Homo sapiens: one gene and its partner. The protein of the gene in region 1 interacts with the protein of each later gene in a pairwise test. Each region holds a gene or a part of one and is shown on either strand. Other genes may lie near its edges. The genes, in order: LSAMP and DELE1.

The links.
Region 2: the proteins of LSAMP (region 1) and DELE1 interact in a two-hybrid assay, tested with the Homo sapiens proteins (one large-scale study listed by IntAct).

The regions. Positions count from the first base shown.
Region 1 is NC_000003.12:115,801,562-115,805,495, reverse strand, and holds the end of LSAMP (limbic system-associated membrane protein isoform 1 preproprotein), read left to right. Parts: 3' UTR 1-3,122; downstream 3,123-3,934.
Region 2 is NC_000005.10:141,930,085-141,933,904, forward strand, and holds part of DELE1 (death ligand signal enhancer precursor), read left to right. Parts: intron 1-93; coding exon 94-190; intron 191-866; coding exon of another isoform or gene 867-973; exon of another isoform or gene 974-1,196; intron 1,197-3,174; coding exon 3,175-3,317; intron 3,318-3,820.

The DNA of each region.
Region 1 (3,934 bases):
ATGTAAATCACTAGTTTATGTACATAATATAAACTATGTAAACTTCATTTTTCATGCAGTGCCCAACTACTGCTAAGGTTTACTATGATTCTTAAGGAAAAAAAAATCAAATAAAAATAAATAAAAACTGAAACGTTTCACAGTTCAGAATCGGAAGAATTACGACTAAAGCTCCAAATATGAGGTTGCCTTAGCCAAAGGAAGCAGACCCACAGGAACAGTTCAAGGTTTATATCCTGCTCAAGTCACCTCTTTGGTCTTTCAGGATCTAAGTGGAGATTGTCCCAACTGTTGCTGTAGTTGTCTCACCCGACCCCAAAGCAAGGGAAATAGAGGGAAAGGTTTTAAGGGCTATATGTCTGCTGTATCCACTCCCAGCTATCTTCTTTTTACTCCTTTCTCACCATCTAAGATGTCTTATTTAAATAGCTCCAAGGAAGTGACCTAAACCTTGATGAGCAAAATATTACTCAGTTTTTATTTTCCATTCAACAAAAGCAGTGGGAAAGCTTGCCATCTGGATTCTAAGAAATTGTGCAATATAAAAAATGTTATATCCTCGAGAAATATCTTGCTGAGTCACCCTAGGAAATAACTACCTTTTATTTATCTGGTAGCCTAATGTTTCCACACATTTATCCTGAATATTGCAAGTGAGGGACTGAATCATTTTTAATTGGGAGTTATCTTTCTCAGGCATGTTCTCTTGGAGTCTTTTTGAAGTGCCTGACACGTGTAACAGGATGACATATATATCATTCCTACAATATGAACAACTGTTACATAAAAAATTATCAAGGAGATGATTTCAGGAAACAAGTGAACTTTCTGCAAAGACTTATAAAAATTTTAGGTCAAATTAACTTCAGGCTTTAAATGCACTAATCTACCTAAGAGAAAAAAAAAGAAAAAAAACAGGAAGGAGTTTTAAGGGCTCATGTGCCTGTTGTATCAACCCCCAAGTGTCTTCTTGGTACTGCTTCCTCATCATCTAAGATAAACTGACAACTTTAAAGTGAGGTAGAAGGTGTATTGAATTGGGAGTCAGGAGAATTGGGTTCTAACCCCAAGTTCAGCCACAAATAAAGCTGTGAGACATTGGCAAGTCATTTAACTTTCCTGAGTCTTGGTTTTCTCATCCTGAAAGTGAGGGATTCGGCTGACGTCTCTAAAATCTCTTTCAACTCTAACCTTTATTCTGAATAAGAATTTAATATTCACTTAGTGCTGTGCCCAGCACTGTTTGTAAACAGCAGCTGTTTGTTATCTCTAGTTTGGTCTCTGTATTCTCATCACTTCTCAGAACTATCATTCTACCGTCTTCATTTCTAAACCCAAAACTGCTAGAATACAGGGACTCTGGACTGGGTCTGTAAATTTTTTCTGATCAAAACTTTATAGCAGTGTAGAGAAGGGACACATTCAAATTACACTAAGGACATTGACATAGCTGGGGTTGTTTCCTTGTTTATATTATAAAACCTAAATGTGGAACTATATTCTAATAATCTTTCATAGGAAGGAAAATAGCCAGACTGGGTATTATGCATGTAACAAATGAGGACATTGTGCATAAGAAAGGAAACATTAGTTTTCTGTCATCCTGGGCCAAGTACCTCATTACAGTAAATGTGTGTCTTTGGAAACTCTTTGCTTGTGCTGATGGCGGTAAGCATGGGGTCCCAGGCAGGTTCAAAGGCTGAACTGTAAGAAATGGGCAAGACAATACATTTTGTTTTGGAAGGAATTTCTCATGGGATAAGTTTCCCAAAGCTTGAATTATAGGCTATGAAATAAAGCAAATAGATGGAGAGAAAACAAGTATTGTTTTCAAAAAGTACAAGTCAATTCTATTTAAAGAAGACAAGCTGAAAATAAAACAAAAATAAACACAATTTAGGAGGTTACAGAGTTGAAGACAGTATGAATTGTTGTGAAGGCCAAAATCAAATGTGAAAGTTAGGTTCTCTGAGAAAAGGGTAAGCAGAAAGGATGATTTCTCAAGCAATTAATAAGGAATTATTTTCTTGTGCCATGTTCTAGATGCATTGAGCACAGATCCTCTTGTCCTAAGCTGTCCTAGAGGCTCAGGTTAGCATCTATCCAAAGTTGTCCTTTGATTTTATTGTCTGAAAGAACAGAAGGCATCAGAGTTTCCAGTCACTGAAGAGTAGGGTTTGTTCATCACTTCCCAGCAATCACATCACTTTGTGTAGGTAAGGATATATGATGTGCTTAGATTACTTATGAAGCTCTCTCTAAGTGGGAGAATGACCTGTCCATGGGACAACTCCCCGTTTTCATGGTCATTTCAGAAGTACCTCTTTTTGGGCAGTGCTCCTGGATCTACTTCTACAGCCACATTCTACTCTGCACAATCCTCCCTATGTAAAGCCAGGCACAGTACAAATATGCTTCTTGCAAGTGAAGAAAACCCATGGAAGTCCTAGCTTCATGGCACGCTGCAGCAATCCCAAGCTACCAGGAGCCTCTTTTGAACCCACTTCCCTAAGTCTTTGCTCTTCACCAGAGAATGGAAATTGTTCATCCTGGTGAACTGTGGCCAAGTTCTGCTCCCTAAGTATTTACTTGGAGTAGGGAGGTTAAAGGGAAGAAATTCAGGGGGAGAGAAGCAAAAGAGAACACTTCCAACTCCCTCCCCCATCTCCCAATGCTCCCCACCTTCCTTATCACTGCTCTACTGAAGGGTGTATAAATCCTGCTCTTGGTTAGAATTCTCCTTATTAACAGTGTTATATACATATAAATATATATATAAATATATTCCTTTTTTCAGCCCTGTAGACATGAACTGATCTTCCCTTGAAGATACAAACACATGGCCATTTTTTGTTTGGGATTTTTTGTTTTTCAAGGTTTTTCATTTTTGTTTATTAGGTGGATTTTTTTCCCTGGGTACTAGCTCTGTGAAGGAGATAAAAAGCGCAATGTGTGTTAAAAAAAAAAAATTAAAATTAAAATGAAAAAAAGCTTTTTTTCTTTTCTTTTTAAATGTATTTAAATTCTGTTTCTCTCTTCTGTTACTTTACACGTATGAATGCTCTGCTCTTCTGTGATCTTAAAACAAAATGAAATAAACGTGAAAAGGAGATGTGTCTTCATTGACCTGTCAGTGATCTTGTGGTTGACTGCACTGCTTCTTGGAGGTTTTCATGAATAAAAGAGAAAATGAAGCCAATGATATGAATATCATGTAAGGGAAGGGCAGAAATAATACTGAAAAATCACTTGAAGCTCTTCTAACAATGCCTCGTCTGTCACAGAAAGGAACGTGGTATTTACAAGAATTTTCTCCACCTAAGCAAAGAGATTCTGTAAACGTGTTTTTTTTTTCTTTTTCTTTTTTTCCCTTAAGGGACTGAAAGAAATAAGTATAAATTACCACTGAAATGCTATAAATAATTAAGACACTTATGATTGTTAGACTTCAGTGCAACCTTGGGTTATGATACCAAAAACATTAGAAAATATGCTCTTTCTTCAAAGTCTCCATAGTAGTGGTTATCTTTAAGGGTTAGTTTTAATGAGATGCTACCTCATAGCAGTAGAAGGAACTAAGGTACCTTCTACAGCCACCTGTTATTTCTACTTACAAAAATGCAGTTTGTTTTCTATTACTGCTGAGAGCTATGATCTTCACGAAATGTTTCCTGAATCTCTATAGAAGCCCTATTGCATTACACAGGACACATAGAAAGAAAATGAGAAATAAGCAATCTATAGTCCAAAGATCATACATCAGGAGTGACTGGGAGCGTCTGAAGTGCTACTCTTAGGAGTCAAATTGACTTTGAAACACCTCCATGAGAATTAATCCCAAGTTAGGCGGCTGGGGGATGGAATGGAGGAATGAGCACTCATGATGGGCTTCAATAATGGGAAAAGGATCAAACAGAACCAAAATTCCTAGACC
Region 2 (3,820 bases), on another chromosome or scaffold:
GATTTGGCCACCTGGATCCCCATAACATTCTCTTGGGCAGGTGGCAATCCTGGTAAACCATCCCTTGGTGAGTCTTTTATATTTCTTTCCCAGGAACAAGATAAATCAAAAACTCTTTCCCTTGAGGAGGCTGTGACTTCCATTCAGCAGCTCTTCCAGCTCAGTGTTTCCATCGCTTTCAACTTCCTGGGTAACCAAATGGACCCTGCCCCAAGGCAGGAGGGTGGGAAAATGGAAAGGGTATGGGGTAGCTCAGATATAGTCAAGATAGGGAGTGGCTTAAACGAGAGATTTTATTTTCTCCCAGGTAGGTAGACCAAATCTGGCATGGCAGGGACCCATTCTTATGCAGATGTGTCCTGCCATTTTTAAAACTGGCTCCCATCTTGAGGCGCAGTTTGGCAATTCCAGCTCCTGCCCTCCTGTCCGTATTCTAGCCAGCTGGTCGGGGCAAGGTAGGGAAGCTAAAGGATCACTCCTTCCCTTTAATCTAGACGTTGCACAAATCCTTGTCCAGAATATAGGCACATGGCCACACCTCGCCACAGAGGAGACTAGTTACTGTGTATGAAGGAAAAAATAATCTTGGAGGGCACGTAGCATTCTCTGCCACACTTAGGAAAGAACAGGCTCCTGGGGTTTGGAGCAGATCCTCGATGTGTGAACAGGAACCTCTTAACCCTCATGTGGGGACTCCAAATACCCTTCCACCATTTGCCCTGTTCTTTGCAGTAACTTGGCTCATTTTAGGCCTTCTAATGCGGAGACTCAGACTCCCCACAGCATCTATTGGGGTCTAGTGGGCAGATAGGCAAGAGGCTGGGATTCATTCACAACAAATTTGTTGAGCATTTACCTTTTGCCAGTTCCTGTTTTAGGTACTGGGGATACAGTGATTTACAAGACAAAGTCCTTATTCTCAGGGAGCAGAAAAACAATAATTGAGAAACAAAAAGAGAATTTCAGATGTTGATAGATGTTATGAAGAAAATAAAGGAATGTGTTAGTGACTTGAGCAAGGAGCAGTTTTTGATTTAGAAGTCCTCACTGAGCAGAAGACCTTTGATCTAAGACCTGTCACAAAGACAGCCACTTTTGTTTCAATCTGGAGAAAGAGCTTTCCAAGTGGCGGGAACAGTAAGCGCGAAAATCCTGAGGCAGGATTGGATTTTGATTGCTAGAGGAACAAAAGAAAGGTGAGTGTGGCTGGAGCTTAGAGATCTTGGGAAGGGCGGAAGGAGATAAAGCCAGAAAAGCAGGCAGGGGTCAGATCAGGTGAGGTCTTCTGAGCCACAGTAAAGAGTGTGGATTTTCTAAGTGAGACAGGAAGTCTTTGGAGGGCTTTAAGCAGGAGCAGGAAAGGGGGCAGCCACATGATCTGATGTACTTTTCCAAAGATCTCTCTGGCTGCCATGTAGACAGACATGGATTGTAGGATTGCCGGGGGGAAAAAGGAGACGAGGCAGGCGCTGTTGGTGACGGCTGAACAAAACATGTCAGTGGCATGGTCTAGATGAGAGAAAGAAGAGAGCAAGAAGAGTAGATGGATCTGGTTATATTAATGAGCCAGGTGGGAAAGAGGAGGATGGTGGGATCCTTTGCACTCTTGAGTCTTCTACCCAAGGGCAGAGGGCTCTGTCAACCCTGGACAGTGAGTTTTCAGGCAGCAAGGAGGCAACTTTATTTAATTCACTGCTGGCTGAATGGAACCTGGTTTCTCCCTCATGAGCTTTATGTGATTTTGATGGGCAAAGAGTCTCTTCTCAGAATTTACTTGCCCATCCCTTCATTCATATATTCATTTATTCAGCAAGCGCTTGGCATGGTGGCAGAACGCGAAAGGAGCATAAGCCATAATCATGTTTTGCATTTGTATGGCGCCTTCACCCTAGGCAAAATTATTTCTTCTACATTCTTTTTCTGCTTCTGCCTCCAGGATTTTACAGTCTAATTGAGGAGACAGGACTTGTACTTTTGAAACGGTTTAGTTTGTAGAAAAAGGCTTGGTATATTAAGTAAGTGCCAAAAAAGTGTTTAAGCCTGAGTGTGGTCCGAAGGTTTAGAGCAGACACAGGATGGGAGCTTTGATGGTGGAGGCGGAAAGAAAGATCCCAGGCAGGAGAGACAATTGAAGCAAAGGCCTTGAGTTGAGAATTGGCCGTGCCCTCATCCTTTCCTGTTTCCTTTTTGTTTGGGCAATGAAAAGAGCATGGACTTTGGGGTTGGATGTGCCTGCATTCAGGTCTTGACACTGCTGTATTACCGCTCCCAATTTCTTCATGAAACAAGATTAACAGTATCACTTGTATCAGTTAGGGTTTGTTGGTTATGAGCAACCTAAACCCACTCTGGCTAACTTAAACATAAAAGGAATCTATTGGGATCTATTGACCTGCCAAGCCTCAGAAAGGACAGGAATCAGGGAAGCTTCAGAGACCTAAGAGGCAGCAGCTGATAGTATCTTCAGAGTGCTGCTGTCAGAATAAACCTACAAGGGCTGTTTTCTCTCCTTGTCCCAACCAGATCAAGGTTCAGATTCCTGAGAAAGAACCTCCGTGGTTAGGAAGAACACAAGCACATTGATTGACAGCACTAGGGGAGGTGTTGTTCCCAATGGGAAATCTAGATGCTACTACCAAGAGAAGGAGGAATGGTTTATAGTAGGGCAGAACCCACTGCTGTCCATGGCAAACCAGTGAAATATTTAGAAGATAGAAATATATGCAAAGGCCAGGCACAGTGGCTCACGCCTGTAATCCCGACACTTTGGGAGGCCGAGGCAGGTGGATCACCTGAGATCAAGAGTTTGAGACAAGCCTGGCCAACATGGTGAAACCCCATCTCTACTAAAAATACAAAAGTTAGCCAGGCATGGGGTCAGGCATCTGTAAACCCAGCTACTTGGGAGGCTGAGGCAGGAGAATCGTTTGAACTCAGGAGGTGGAGGTTGTAGTGAGCTGAGATTGCGCCACTGCATTCCAGCCTGGGCAACAGAGCAAGACTCCATCTCAAAAAAAAAAAAAAAAAATATATATATATATATATATATATGTAAAGTGTCTGGCACAAAAAAAGAAAGGGAGGAGGATCAGATGAGGAGTCTGTAGGTACCTGGCTGAGGGTGTGGGGAAGTTCACTGAGGAAGCTGTGTTTGTGCCCTGTGCCTTCTTACAGGAACAGAGAACATGAAGAGTGGCGACCACACGGCAGCCTTTTCTTACTTCCAGAAAGCTGCAGCCCGCGGCTACAGCAAAGCGCAGTACAATGCGGGCTTGTGTCATGAGCATGGCAGAGGCACCCCCAGGGACATTAGCAAGGTATTCCCCTGCCCCCAAGCCTGCCTTCTGTGCTGGGCTGCTGAGATTGATGTCTAGAAATGAGCAGTGGGCAGGGATGGGGGAAAGTTTGGCTTCTTTTCTCCACTTGGTTCTAGCCCAGCTGCGAAGGAAAAATAAGAAAGAAGCTCCTAACTTCCAGGAATTTAGACTCAAAATTCAGGGAGGGCAGGGATTTTGCCTTTCTTCTTTGCAACTACATCCTCAGCCTAGAATAGCATCTTGATGAATGGATTAATTAATTTTTAAAAAGTGGGATAAGAACACAAAGAGGTTATATATAAGAATGTATTTCGTAGAGTTGTATGTGAAGGCAAAAAAACCCAAAAAAACCTGAAAGTTTCTTCAATGGAAAACTGGTTAATTACATCTATTTGGGCCTTAAAATGATGTGCTAGATCTGTATGTCAGGGAAAGACATTCATGGTGTACTATTAAAGTTAAAAAAATAGGTTATAAAGTAGTATAGAGTGATCTAAGTCTCT